Homo sapiens: one gene and its partners. The protein of the gene in region 2 purifies or fractionates together with the protein of the main gene of each other region. This does not show direct contact. Each region holds a gene or a part of one and is shown on either strand. Other genes may lie near its edges.

Evidence for each region. Proteins that work in one complex are often made in the same cells at the same time.
Region 1: the proteins of RNMT (region 2) and NT5DC3 fractionate together in Homo sapiens (co-fractionation; one large-scale study listed by BioGRID). This does not show direct contact.
Region 3: the proteins of RNMT (region 2) and HEXA fractionate together in Homo sapiens (co-fractionation; one large-scale study listed by BioGRID). This does not show direct contact.
Region 4: the proteins of RNMT (region 2) and NFATC2IP fractionate together in Homo sapiens (co-fractionation; one large-scale study listed by BioGRID). This does not show direct contact.

Annotation. Positions count from the first base shown.
Region 1 is NC_000012.12:103,771,810-103,775,234, reverse strand, and holds the end of NT5DC3 (5'-nucleotidase domain-containing protein 3), read left to right. Parts: 3' UTR 1-2,925; downstream 2,926-3,425.
Region 2 is NC_000018.10:13,729,673-13,733,172, forward strand, and holds part of RNMT (mRNA cap guanine-N(7) methyltransferase), read left to right. Parts: intron 1-954; 5' UTR 955-1,083; intron 1,084-1,803; 5' UTR 1,804-1,845; coding exon 1,846-2,262; intron 2,263-3,500. UniProt on the Homo sapiens protein: Catalytic subunit of the mRNA-capping methyltransferase RNMT:RAMAC complex that methylates the N7 position of the added guanosine to the 5'-cap structure of mRNAs. Binds RNA containing 5'-terminal GpppC.
Region 3 is NC_000015.10:72,340,424-72,342,719, reverse strand, and holds the end of HEXA (beta-hexosaminidase subunit alpha isoform 2 preproprotein), read left to right. Parts: 3' UTR 1-1,796; downstream 1,797-2,296. UniProt on the Homo sapiens protein: Hydrolyzes the non-reducing end N-acetyl-D-hexosamine and/or sulfated N-acetyl-D-hexosamine of glycoconjugates, such as the oligosaccharide moieties from proteins and neutral glycolipids, or from certain mucopolysaccharides.
Region 4 is NC_000016.10:28,960,937-28,964,264, forward strand, and holds part of NFATC2IP (NFATC2-interacting protein), read left to right. Parts: intron 1-2,768; coding exon 2,769-2,927; 3' UTR 2,928-3,328. UniProt on the Homo sapiens protein: In T-helper 2 (Th2) cells, regulates the magnitude of NFAT-driven transcription of a specific subset of cytokine genes, including IL3, IL4, IL5 and IL13, but not IL2.

The sequences.
Region 1 (3,425 bases), on a different chromosome or scaffold from region 2:
TGTTGAGATCTCCCATGTGACAGAAGCCTGACATCTGGGCCACCAAGGCTCACTGACTGTGTACCTTGCAGACTGTAGACCCATGTCGTGGCGGTAACGGGGCCGAACACAGTCATTCCCATGTGAACGATGGAGGCACATCCCACTTTATTATTAATCCTTGTATATACTCAGTCAGGACAGATTTTAACTTGTCGCTGTCATGACTTTTTTTTTTTTTTTTTGAGGCAAGGTCTCGCTCTGTTGCCCATTCTGGAGTGCAGTGGTGTGATCTCGGCTCACTGCAACCTCTTGCCTCCCAGGTTCAAGCAATTTTCGTGCCTCAGCCTCCCGAGTAGCTGGGACTACTGGTACATGCCACCAGGCCTGGCCAAGTTTTGTAGTTTTAATAGAGATGGGGTTTCACCATGTTGGCCAGGCTGGTCTCAAACTCCTAGCCTCAAGTGTTCTGCCCACCTCAGCCTTCCAAAGTGCTGGGATTCTGGGTGTGAGCCACTGTCATGCCTGGCCTCGTCATGACTCTTTTCTCTTTTTTTTTTTTTTTTTTTTTGAGATTTAGTTTTGCTCTTTTTGCCCAGGCCGGAGTGCAATGGCACGATCTTGGCTCACTCCAACCTCCGCCTCCTGGGTTCAAGTGATTCTCCTGCCTCAGCCTCCCGAGTAGCTGGGATTACAGGTGCCCACCACCACATCCAGCTAATTTTTTTGTATTTTTAGTAGAGACGGGGTTTCACCATGTTGGCCAGGCTGGTCTCGAACTCCTGACCTTGGGTAATCCACCTGCCTTGGCCTCCCAAGGTGCTGGGATTACAGGCATGAGCCACCGTGCCCAGCCTATCATGACTCAACTGGGATCTGGCACACTGCACTGGGTGTTTTGTTCTCTGATGTGCACATTGATGAATGCATATTGGTACAAGGGAAATGAATCTGTTTTCAGCCATTTAAAAAATTGTGTTGTAAAGCAAACAAAAATAGCTTGAACATTTAAAAATTACTGTTTAATATTGTTTGACTGATTTTCTAAGAATTATGTGAACAATGATGAGTCCAGGGCAGCAGCCATCACAAATATGACAGTCCAGCAAGGCCCATGGAGGTCCCTTTGGAAGGGACTTGCACAGCTGATTTTCTTTTTCCAGTGTTGTTTTTACGGGTGAAACGTGGCTTTTGAAATACTTTAGTTGTTTGGCTTAGAGCTCCCACTTTCCCCCTAACATAGTGCCTGTCTGTTTTTTAAAACATTTTACCCTTCGGCACTATTTTCTGCTATTCCCATTAATATTATGTAACATAAACCACTTGCTACTGATTTGGGCATATTACAGACTACAATTACTAGTTGCTTTGAATGCATTGGCACTCTTAATTATTGCAAAGGAGAATTGAAAAGTAGTCTTGTGGTCCTAGTTAATTTAGCTTTGGGCAAACTAAGTGGCTTTTCTTCTGTCCTCTTCTCAAAAGGCCTTTTAAGCAGCAGAGACTGGGCTAAATACTGGAACTGAATTCCACTTTTCTGCCTGCTCATTTGCTGCCAAAGACCACTTGGGGCTCCTTGTCTAGAATGCTCTAAGACGAAATTTGGCCAGACACAGGGTTCCTTGATTGTTCTGTTCAACTAATAGAGAACCTACATTTTGCCTTCTTAATATCGACTTTCTTTTGTACCAGGTTTTTCTTTCTTTCTTTTTTGCCTTAGGAGCTTAGCTCAAAGTTCAGCTAACCTTTGACACTACTAGTGTCATTTAGTAACAGTAATCTTTGACACTACTAGTGTCATTTAGGAGCTTAGCTCAAAGTTCAGCTAACCTTTGACACTGCTAGTGCGTTCAAGAAAGGGTAGGGAATGAAGTACCCTTAATGCAGGGTCAGCAAACTTTTCCTGTAAAAGGCCAGATAGGAAGTATTTTTGGCTTTTTGGGCTGTTTGCTTTTGCTACTACTACTGTGGGAATGACCATGGTCATGGCTGTGTTCCAGCACAACTTGATTTACCAAGACAAGCTGTGGGCTGTATTTGGTCCTCAGGCTGTGGCTTGCTAGCCCCTGCTCTAATGGATTGTGTTGGCGGCAATGGCAAGATTCCCTTGCTGAGAACATGCAGATGAATAACCTTATAGCTGGGATGCAGAGAGGAGAAAGTTCTGTAGGTAATAAGTGCACTGTATTCCCTCTGAGCTACTTCCTGGGCATAGTTACATGTATGGCCAGTGTGTGTACTTGAGCCATCAGGCTCAGACACTTGTTGAATATACCTCTCATTGCATTAGTTTGTAATTGTGCTAGTGCTGGGTGCTGAGCTCAGCTGCCCGGATGACCTTTCCAGACTGAAGGACATACTCCCCTAACAGCTGGGAGTGCTGCTGGCTGGCCATTTACTTCCAGCCCTTATGAGGAGTTTCCCCTGCTGAAGAGCCCTGCCTGCCCCAGATCATACCCCCTTCCTGCCTGTAACCCTTACCGGCTCCATATGGGGTACAAAGGGCTGGCCTCCTCACCCCAACTTGGGAAACCCTCTGGGGCCATCCCAGCTCCAGAGCCCCTTGTGGGGTCAGTGAGACCTCATTGTGGCCACATTACAGCCCAGTGCCTCTCCCTGACAAGCCTGTACCCAGCCGGCTCAGCCCACAGCACTGTCCTATGAACCTTCCTGCACGCCATTCTCCACCTCAGTATCTGCTTTCGGGGAACCCAACCTGCGACAGTGCTTCTGTGTGTTTTCAGTCCTGCAGGTTTGAACTCTGACTTTGGAGACTTTTCCAGTTATCTCGTGGAATGACAGATTGTGCCTGTATGATATCAGGCACAATTAATGCAAATTAGGCAGACCTATTTATTCTAGATGTGAATTTGCTATTTATTTTAAATGTTGATTTTATGTGTTATGTGACTCTGAACTTATTGCCAAATAAAAGTTTGAATTGTATCATCTGGTTTATTGTCAGTCACCTATTTTGTGTGCTTAAGTCTGCCACGTTAAATTCTGATGAATCCACAGTATCGTTTTCTAAAAAGGCATTTTTTTCCAGGACTTGAGGTTATTTCTACAAAAATAGATAAAGGAGATCTTGGATTAAAAAAAATTCTAAGGGACTTCAAAAAGTTTATCCCTGAGAGAAGGGATAACCTTTTTTGGGGAAAGCTCAAAGGTTTCTTCTCACTACCCCCATCTCCCCCCACCCACAGCAAGCACACCCACTTGTTTTCAGAGCTTGAAGACTGTCATTCCTCCCATGGATATCTTTTTTTTCCTCCCTTCGATCACCTGCCTTTGTGTACCTGTGATGGTGGGTGTTGGTGGACTCACTAGCAAATCTGTCCCATATTGATTTTTTGGGGGCGATTTTCTGGAAACTTGGCATGTCATCTAAGAGGAAATGACAGCCTGCTCCTCTGCCTGAAATATGGGCTGCTTCTCTTTCCTGG
Region 2 (3,500 bases):
CTTACCCATTCATAGTGAGTGACTTGTTACCCATTCCTTTAAGCAACTTGATTTCTTATTCTTTTTCATTATCCAAAAGGCTTTTTATTTATTTACTTTTTTTTTTAAGCACAAACACTTCCTTCATGAAAAAGCTTTTTTTTTTTAAGTGGGGTCTCACTTTGTTGTCTAGGCTGGAGTACAGTGGCACAATCATGGCTCACTGCAGCCTGGACCTCCTGGGCTCAGGTGATCCTCCTACTTCAGCCTGCTGAGTAACTGGGACTAAGGCATGTGCCACCATGCCCAGCTATTTTTTGTAGAGACGGGATTTTGCCATGTTGCCCAACCTGGTCTCGAACTCCAGAGCTCAAGCAGTCTGCCCACCTCGTTCCCCCAAAGTGGTGGGATTACAGGTGTGAGCCACTGTGCCCAGCGAAAGCTTAACATTTTAATAGTGGTATATAAGCTATAAACATCTTGAAAACATGATTTACATTGAGCTTCTCCATAGTAGGAGGTCACTAAATTTGTTGAATGGCTTAATAAATGAACCACCATAATTCTTGCCCAATAGATAGTTCAGTTATTTCTCTCGCTTTCCCATCTTAATGTAGGTCTAAAAACATATTTGAAAGAGACTTAATGGTCATCAAACTGCAGGCTGAGTCCTGAAACTTGTCTAAAGCCATTTCTACTCTCTTCACTTTCTACCTAATTGGAACACCCATTATGAAATACGATTTCAGAATTCTTGCTGTAGAATCCCAAACTTTTTCTGTTCTTGATGCCCTTAGTGTCCATAGGCCAAAAGAAATATAACAGTTCCATTTATTAAGTAGTTTACCCCAAAGAATTTAAAAGTATTTATGGTCTAACAACTTTATGTCTGTTTAAAAAATTAACACACATAAATTGGGGGGAAAGGTAATGTTTCTGTTTTATTCTTGATTAATCACAATCCCTTACTAACAGGATGTGTGAACCTATTGGGTACTGTACAACTTCAAGCCTCGAAATCAGATAGGCACCACCAACCTCATTTCCTGTTTCACCTTGATTTTCTGTGATACCAAAATCTCAGCTTCACAAAGTCATTGAAAGGTATGTAGTGTAATCTATTCAGCTGGAACTGTGCTGTACTTAAAGCTGGTAGTTTCTGTGATATCTTCCACATTAGGTTCTGTGGTGCCTGTTTGTTATGGTGCCAACCATGCAGTTTGGGAACCAGGGTTATAGAGTAAGGATCAGAACCAAAATGGAACTAGTGCATGTGTATCGCCACTTCATTTGTCAGCTTTAATGCCAACAGTGACTTTTATGAATAAGATTATAGAATTTTGGGGGGATTATAATTAGTACTGCCATATTCAGAAATTCATACATAGTATCAGTTAACATTTTTTAATATGCTCTCTACAATGAGATTTTTTTAAACTCCTAGTTGATCAAATTCTAGTTAAAATTATTTTAGGCCAGGCGCAGTGGCTTACGCCTGTAATCCCAGCACTTTGGGAGGCCAAGGCAGGCGGATCACCTGGGGTCAGGAGTTAGAGACCAGCCTGCCCAACGTGGGGAAATCGCGTCTCAGCTAAACATACAAAAAATTAGCCAGGCGTGGTGGCAGGTGCCTGTAATCCCAGCTACTGGGGAGGCTGAGGCGGGAGAATCACTTGAACCCCAGAGGCGGAGCTTGCAGTGAGCCGAGATCATGCCATTGCACTCCAGCCTGGGCGACAAGAGTGAAACTCCGTCTCAAAAAAAAAAAAAATTGTTTTAAAGTCTTAGTGTTTACAAGTAATACCAATTTTTTTCCTATTCTAGTGTTGGTTCATGAAGTTTTACCATCAATTCAAGTAATCATAAATGGCAAATTCTGCAAAAGCAGAAGAATATGAAAAGATGTCTCTTGAACAGGCAAAAGCGTCAGTGAATTCTGAAACAGAGTCTTCATTCAATATTAATGAAAACACAACAGCTTCTGGGACTGGGCTTTCTGAAAAGACTTCTGTCTGTAGGCAAGTAGACATAGCAAGAAAGAGAAAAGAGTTTGAAGATGATCTTGTAAAGGAAAGTTCTAGTTGTGGGAAAGACACTCCATCCAAGAAGAGAAAACTTGATCCTGAAATTGTCCCAGAGGAAAAAGATTGTGGTGATGCTGAAGGCAATTCAAAGAAAAGAAAAAGAGAAACTGAGGATGTTCCAAAAGATAAATCTTCTACTGGAGATGGCACTCAAAATAAGAGAAAAATAGCACTTGAGGATGTTCCTGAAAAGCAGAAAGTATGTTCAGTGTATTTTCATTTATTCATAATAGAATATGTAAGTTTGAAATGTGGAACACCCGTGGATTCATACTGGTTTTTACATAATAGCTTAAGAATGTTCTATTTTTAATAGATATGGTCCTAAGACAAAGTAGGCTTTTAACTCTTATGATTTCTGTTAAGGTGAAACATCTCCTGCTAATGAGATAGATTTTTTAGTTTTTGTTTGTTTTTATTTTCTAATGAGATAATGTTTATCTTATTTTAGAATATTTAACTAGAAACTTTTTTTTCCGAGACAGAGTCTTGCACTGTCGCCCAGGCTGGAGTGTGATGGTGTAATCAAAGCTCACTGCAGCCACAACCTCCTGGGCATAAGCAGTCCTCCGGCGTTTTTAAAAAGACTAGAGTATGAGATCCAAATGATTTACCTATTTTTCTTTTTTATTAGGTGTTCAGCTCTAGTTTTTTTGTCAGAGGTTATCACTTAAAGGGATAACTTTTAAAATTATACCTAGCTTTACATCCCTTTATTAATGTAATTCCTTAAACAGTTTTCAGCTTCTTATTAATGTATTTTACATACTGTTTTAGTTAAGTGAATGCAAATGCCTAATATTTAGCAAAGATATTATAGGGCAAGTTGTTTTCATCTGGAAGTACCACATTAGAAAGGAATTTGAGGCAGAATCTGGAGTTAGAGGAAAAGATTACTTTAATGAGTAAATAAAATTCTGCCATTGGCCCTTATGAGGAAAGTGACTGATAGTGAGGCTTTTGTCATCAATGGAATGTGAATTCTTGTAACAGAGGGGAGCCCCCCCTTTTTTTTTTTTTTTTTTTTGGAGACAGAGTCTCACTCTGTCTCCTAGGCTAGAGTGCAGTGGTGTAAACTCGGCTCACTGCAACCTCCACCTCCCGGGACCTCCACCTCCCGGGTTCAAGCGATTCTCCTGCCTCAGCCTCCCGAGTAGCTGGGACTACAGGTGCCCACCACCATGCCTGGCTAATTTTTGTGTTTTTTAGTACAGATGGGATTTCACCATATTGGCCAGGCTGGTCTTGAATTCCTGACCTTGTGATCTGCCCACCTCAGCCTCCCAAAGTGCTGGGATTACAGGCATGAGCCACTGCGCCTGGCTGGGAGCTTGTATTTTAAACATAGTTTTCAAACTTTTACTAGCCCCAGAACCCCTTTTTCAACTGAAAATCTTACACTTAAACCTGTTACGTAAAATAGGTCAAGGATTTGTT
Region 3 (2,296 bases), on a different chromosome or scaffold from region 2:
ACCATTTTCAGCCCAAAGCATCTTCGCAGGGAATGGATGGCTGCGCGGAGGTGGGCGGTGGCTCTGGAGAGGGTCTTTGCAGGTGTGATTTTCTCTAGAAGGAAATGTCTCGTCGTGGACCCAGACTGCCCCCTCCTGGTTTCAGATGCAGAAGTGATACTGTAAGCCAGAGGCGGGGGCAGTAATGCATCGCAGCCATTTTAGGTGAGGATTTCCTTGGCGGTTATTTGTTAAGTTCTTTGGCTGGGCCCTGGGCTGGGGTAACAATGGACAGGTTCCAGGCATTTTTTTCAGAAAGCTTCCAGTGTAGTGGATACAGAAACTTCAGGAAGGCAGGGCTGAGAAGGATCTGAGTAAAACTCGGTCCTTCAACACCATCCTTCAGCCCCTGGGTCATGTTCCTTCGAGGTCCTGGTGGGAGGTAGACAAGCCTAGCCTTGTGCTGTTCCTGTAAGGACAGGGTGGGCATTTTCTACCAACAGAATTCTTGGAATTTTCACACAGCCCAGCCTAGCCAAGTCCAGGGCTATAGCCCAGATACACAAGTTAAGGTCCCAGCACTGGCACCCACCACAGGAGCCCCCTTACCTCTATTACCCAGAAGCTTGTAGGAGGGGTGGTCCGCAGACAAGGACCCTGCACAGGTGCGACCCTGCTTCCCTCCTGGTCATAACTTTCATGTTACTATTGCTTGGGATAATGTTAAGTAAAAATAGCAGACACTGAGTTTTAAGTCTCAAGTGGATGAAGGCAGAGATCGTGATACACTTGAGTTAAAGCAGTAGGGTTCTGTCATTTTCTATTCCTGTTGTAAACATTTTCTTTAATGTTATTATTTTTACCACTAAACTAACGTGGCCTGGTCACGACTTTCATTGGTAAAGTGTGCTGTTCCTCACCCTCCACCGTTGCTCCTTTGGTCCACTGATCATAAGAGCATTTACCTGAAGGTCGTCAGACCTCGAATGCCAACAGGTCAACTGCAGTGGCCTGCAGTTACCACCCAGTCTGTTCCAATGAACAGAATCGCTGTTGCCCCAACTCATCTCCCTTCACCTAGGCTGTAAATTGAAAGTCCCACCCCTGAGCGGAACACAGGCCATCTTGTGTGCTGTGCACCACCAGGGGGTGGGGAAGTTTCCAGACTGACTTCCTGGCTCCAGTCATCCTAGGAAAAGAGTTCTCCAGTCGCTCCCCACCCCCACCCCTTCCCATTCCAGGAGTCTATTAAGGAGGCAAAGCAGGCCTAACGGGTATCAAAGCAAAGGAGTGAATGGAGACTGGGAGAGTCTTCAACCTCTCCTCTCCTTGGTAGGAGCTGAGGCTGCATGCCAGGTACCTTCCCTTCGAGGAATCTAATAAAGCTAGGTCACTGGTGTTTTCAGGTGCTTCTCAAAGGATTGCCGTAGGGGTAGGATATCAGGATGTGGGAGCACAGGTGCCACCACAGCACTAGTGATGGAGAGTCATTGCCCCTAGACTTCTGGGACAGTGAGACTGTGAGGAAAGCTGAAATGATACTGGGAAAGGGTGAAAGAAAGGATGTAGGTGGAATTTATTTAGTATTAATGTAGGTACACATACCTTATGGCAACATTCCTAGCACTCTAAATTCTAGATTTGTATAGTTTCTGTCAATATCTTTTGTAAGCTTAATCAATACAGGGCATGACAAGTATGTGTCACATACTTTTTTTTCCACGAAGAAAAAAAATAAGTAGGAATTGGGTGCTTTGTTTATCAAAATTTGTATTTCCTTTATAAATAAACTTTGAAATAAAGGTTGAAAATTAGTATCTTTTCTAGCCGAGCCACCATTGTTTTTAAAAATCCTCTTTGAAGCAGGTGTGTGTGTGTGTGTGTGTGTGTGTGTGTGTGACGTTTTTCAACAAAATTTTTAAAAATCGAAATGTCAGGGTCAGGTGCAGTGGCTCATGCCTCTAATTCCAGCACTTTGGGAGGCCGATGTGGGAGGATTGCCTGAGCTCAGGAGTTAAAGACCACCCTGGGCAACATGGTGAGACCTGATTTCTACTAAAAATTAAAAAGATTAGCTAAGAATGGTGGTGTGTGGTTGTAGTCCCAGCTACTCAGGAGGCTGAGAAAGAAGGATCACTTCAGCCTGGAAGATTGAGGCTGCAATGAGTCATGATCACACCACTGAACTCCAGCCTCAGCAACAGGGTGAGACCATGTTTCAAAAAAAAGAAAAAAATTTAAATGTCCAGGAACCTTGCTTTTTTCACAGTAATTACTGTACTCTAACCACACCCATGTTTAGTCTAAACTATCCCAG
Region 4 (3,328 bases), on a different chromosome or scaffold from region 2:
CTTTGTGAGCCTGCAGGGACATTCCCTTTAATGTCCATATTTCTACCAGCAGTCTCTTCAAGGCAGTCTAGGTTTTTCCTAACATACACCTCAAAATTCTTGCAGCTTTGGCCAGGCACAGTGCCTCACATCTGTAATCCTAACACTTTGAGAGGCCAACATGGACAGATTGCTTGAGCTCAGGAGTTCAAGACCAGCCCGGGCAACATAGTGAAACCCTGCCTCTACAAAAAATACAAAAATTAGCCCAGCATGCTGGCGCAGGCCTATAGTTCCAGCTACCCAGGAGGCTGAGGTGTGAGGATCGCTTGTGCCTAGGAGATTGAGGCTGCAGTGAGCTGAGATTGGGCCACTGCACTCCAGCCTGGGAGACAGCAAGACCCTATCTGAAAAAAAAAAAAAAAAAAAAAAAAAAAAATTATTCCAGCCCTGATCCAATTTCAAAGCCACTGTTACATTTAACCATTTATTCCAGCAGCACCCCACTTTTGTATTTTGGCTGTTGTAACAAAGTACCACAAGTTGGGTGGCTTAAAACAACATAAATTTATTCTCTCATTGTTCTGGAGGGTAGAAGTCTGAAATCAAGGTGTTAGCAGAGCAAGTGTCTCTGAAGATATGGGGGAAGAAAACAAACTCAGGATTTTTTTCTTTTCTTTTGAAAAAAACAAAAAAGAGACAGGGCCAGACGTGGTGGCTCACGCCTGTAATCCCAGCACTTTGGGAGGCTGAGGTGGGCGGATCACGAGGTCAGGAGTTCAAGACCAGTCTGATCAACATGGTGAAACCCTGTCTCTACTAAAAATACAAAAAATTAGCCGGGCATGGTGGCATGCGCCTATAGTCCCAGCTACTCAGGAGGCTGAGGCAGAAGAATCGCTTGAACCTGGGAGGCGGAGGTTGCAGTGAGCCAAGATCAAGCCACTGCACTCCAGCCTGGGCGACAGAGCTAGACTTCGTCTCAAAAAAAAAAAAAAAAAAAAAAAAGACAGGGTCTTGCTCTGTTGCCCAGGCTGGAGTGCAGTGGTGCGATCTTGGCTTACCACAGCCTCAAACTCCTGGGCTCAAGCGATCCTTCTACCTCAGCCTCCTGAGTAGTTGGGACTACAGGTGTGTGCCACTACCCTTGGCTAATTTTTTAATTTTTTTTGTGTAGACGGGGTCTCACTATGTTGCCCAGGCTGGACTCAAACTCCTGGGCTCAACTGATCCTCCCACCTCTGCCTCCCAGAGTGTTGGGATTACAGGCATGAGCCACTGCACCTCGCCCCCTCCTTGGGTTTAATTTGCTAGAGCAGCTTACAGAACTCAGGGAGACACTTACTTTCATTTACTGGTTTATTATAAAGGATGTTACAAAGGATACAGATGAAGAGATGTGTAGGGCACAGCATGGGAAAAGGGCGCAGAGCTTCCATAGCTTCCCTGGGCACCATTCTCCAGGAATCACCACATGTTCAACTATTGGGAAGTTCTCCAAACCCTGTCCTCTGGATTTTTATGGAAGCTTTGTTATATAGGCATGACTGATTAAACCATGGGCTATTGGTGGTGACTCAACCTTCACTCTCTCCCTCCTTCTTGGAGGTTGAGGGGTGGGGAAAAAGTCCCAACTGTCTTATCCTACCTTGGTCTTTCTAGTGACCAGCACCATTCCTGAAGCTCTCTAGGGGCTGCCAGCCACCAGTCAACTCATTAGCATGCAAAAAGATACTTAACTCTTTCCCAGGGATTTTAGGAATTTTATACCAGGAAACATACAAAGACCAAATATATATTTGACAACATCACGCAGTCCCTCAGGGTCTCTTCATGGAATCTGCCCTGTCTCCTCCTGGCTCCTGCTGGCGGCCCACAGTCCTTGGCATTCTTGGCTTGCAGGTGCACTCCATTCTGCCTCTGTCATCACGTGTGTTCTCCCCTCATGTCTGTTTCTGTGTCTGTTCCATAAGCATACCAGTCCCAGGCTGGGTGCGGGGGCTCACGCCTGTCATCCCAGCACTTTGGGAGGCCAAAGTGGGTGGCTTATCTGAACTCAGGAAGTTTGAGACCAGCTTGGGCAACAGAGAAACTGTCTCTACCAAAAATACAAAAACTTAGCTGGGTGTGGTGGCCTGTGCCTGTAGTTGCAGCTACTCAGGAGGCTGAGGCAGGAGAATTGCTTGAACCCAGGAGGCAGAGGTTGCAGTGAGTTGTCTACCAGTCCCACGGCATTAGCACTCGTCCCAATCCAGTACAACCTCAACTTGATTGCATCTGCAAAGGCCCCGTCTCCAAATCACATCACATTCACACTTAACAGGGGTTAAGACCACAAGGTGTCTTCTCTGGGGAACATAACCTGTAACATTTTTCTAAGGTCACATATCTAATAGGTGGGAGAGCCTGGCCTCCAGCTCGACTCATCCTCACTCTAGAATCTGGGCTCTCTTAGTCATTGGTACACACTTCTGTTTCATAGGGAAGGAGGCTGAGGCTAGGAGGACTTGCCTGACTTAGAGCCTATACCCCTAAGCCTTGGGCTCGTGGCCCCCGTCCTCTACCTGAGCAACTTGGAGCCCAGAGGGATGACAGGATTCGTCCCAGCTCCCAGAGAGGAGCCTGGCTGGGCTGGCTTCTTTGTCCTCTCTCCTTTCCCCGCATGGGGCCCTGACTTTATTGTTTCCGCCCCTGCCGCCATCCTCCCTGTCCCAAGTTCCTCGTCTATCCCTACGGGATCCCCGCCCCCTTTCATGTTCTGACGTCCATTTTCTTTTGTCTCCATCCAGGATTCCCCTCTAAAGACCCTCATGTCCCACTATGAGGAGGCCATGGGACTGTCGGGACGGAAGCTCTCCTTCTTCTTTGATGGGACAAAGCTTTCAGGCAGGGAGCTGCCAGCTGACCTGGGCATGGAATCTGGGGACCTCATTGAGGTCTGGGGCTGACACCCCACTCCCTGTTTGACGGCCCAGCCTGGACTTGGGGAGAATGACTTTCCCTTTTTTGCCCCATAAGGGCTAGCATAAGCTGAGGTAGAACTTATCTTTAAGCTGCAGCAAAATCAAGGAGTGACTTTTGTCCCCTCTCCTGTTGACCCTGGTTTAGAGCCGTTAACCACTTGGTGAGTTATGTGGGTGTTGTTGCCCTGGGTGGCCTGTGGCTCCGTCCACAAGTCATGCTGAGTTTTGCAGCCTCTGTGACTTGGAGATGTCCCTTCACCCCTCCCCTTTCACCACCATCCTCTTTTCCTCATGGAAATGTCTGCTTTATGAAACTATGCACATATTGAAAGTGAGTTGAAACAAATGAGGGTTGGGTAGGAGCTTCCAGGCCTGGGATTTACACC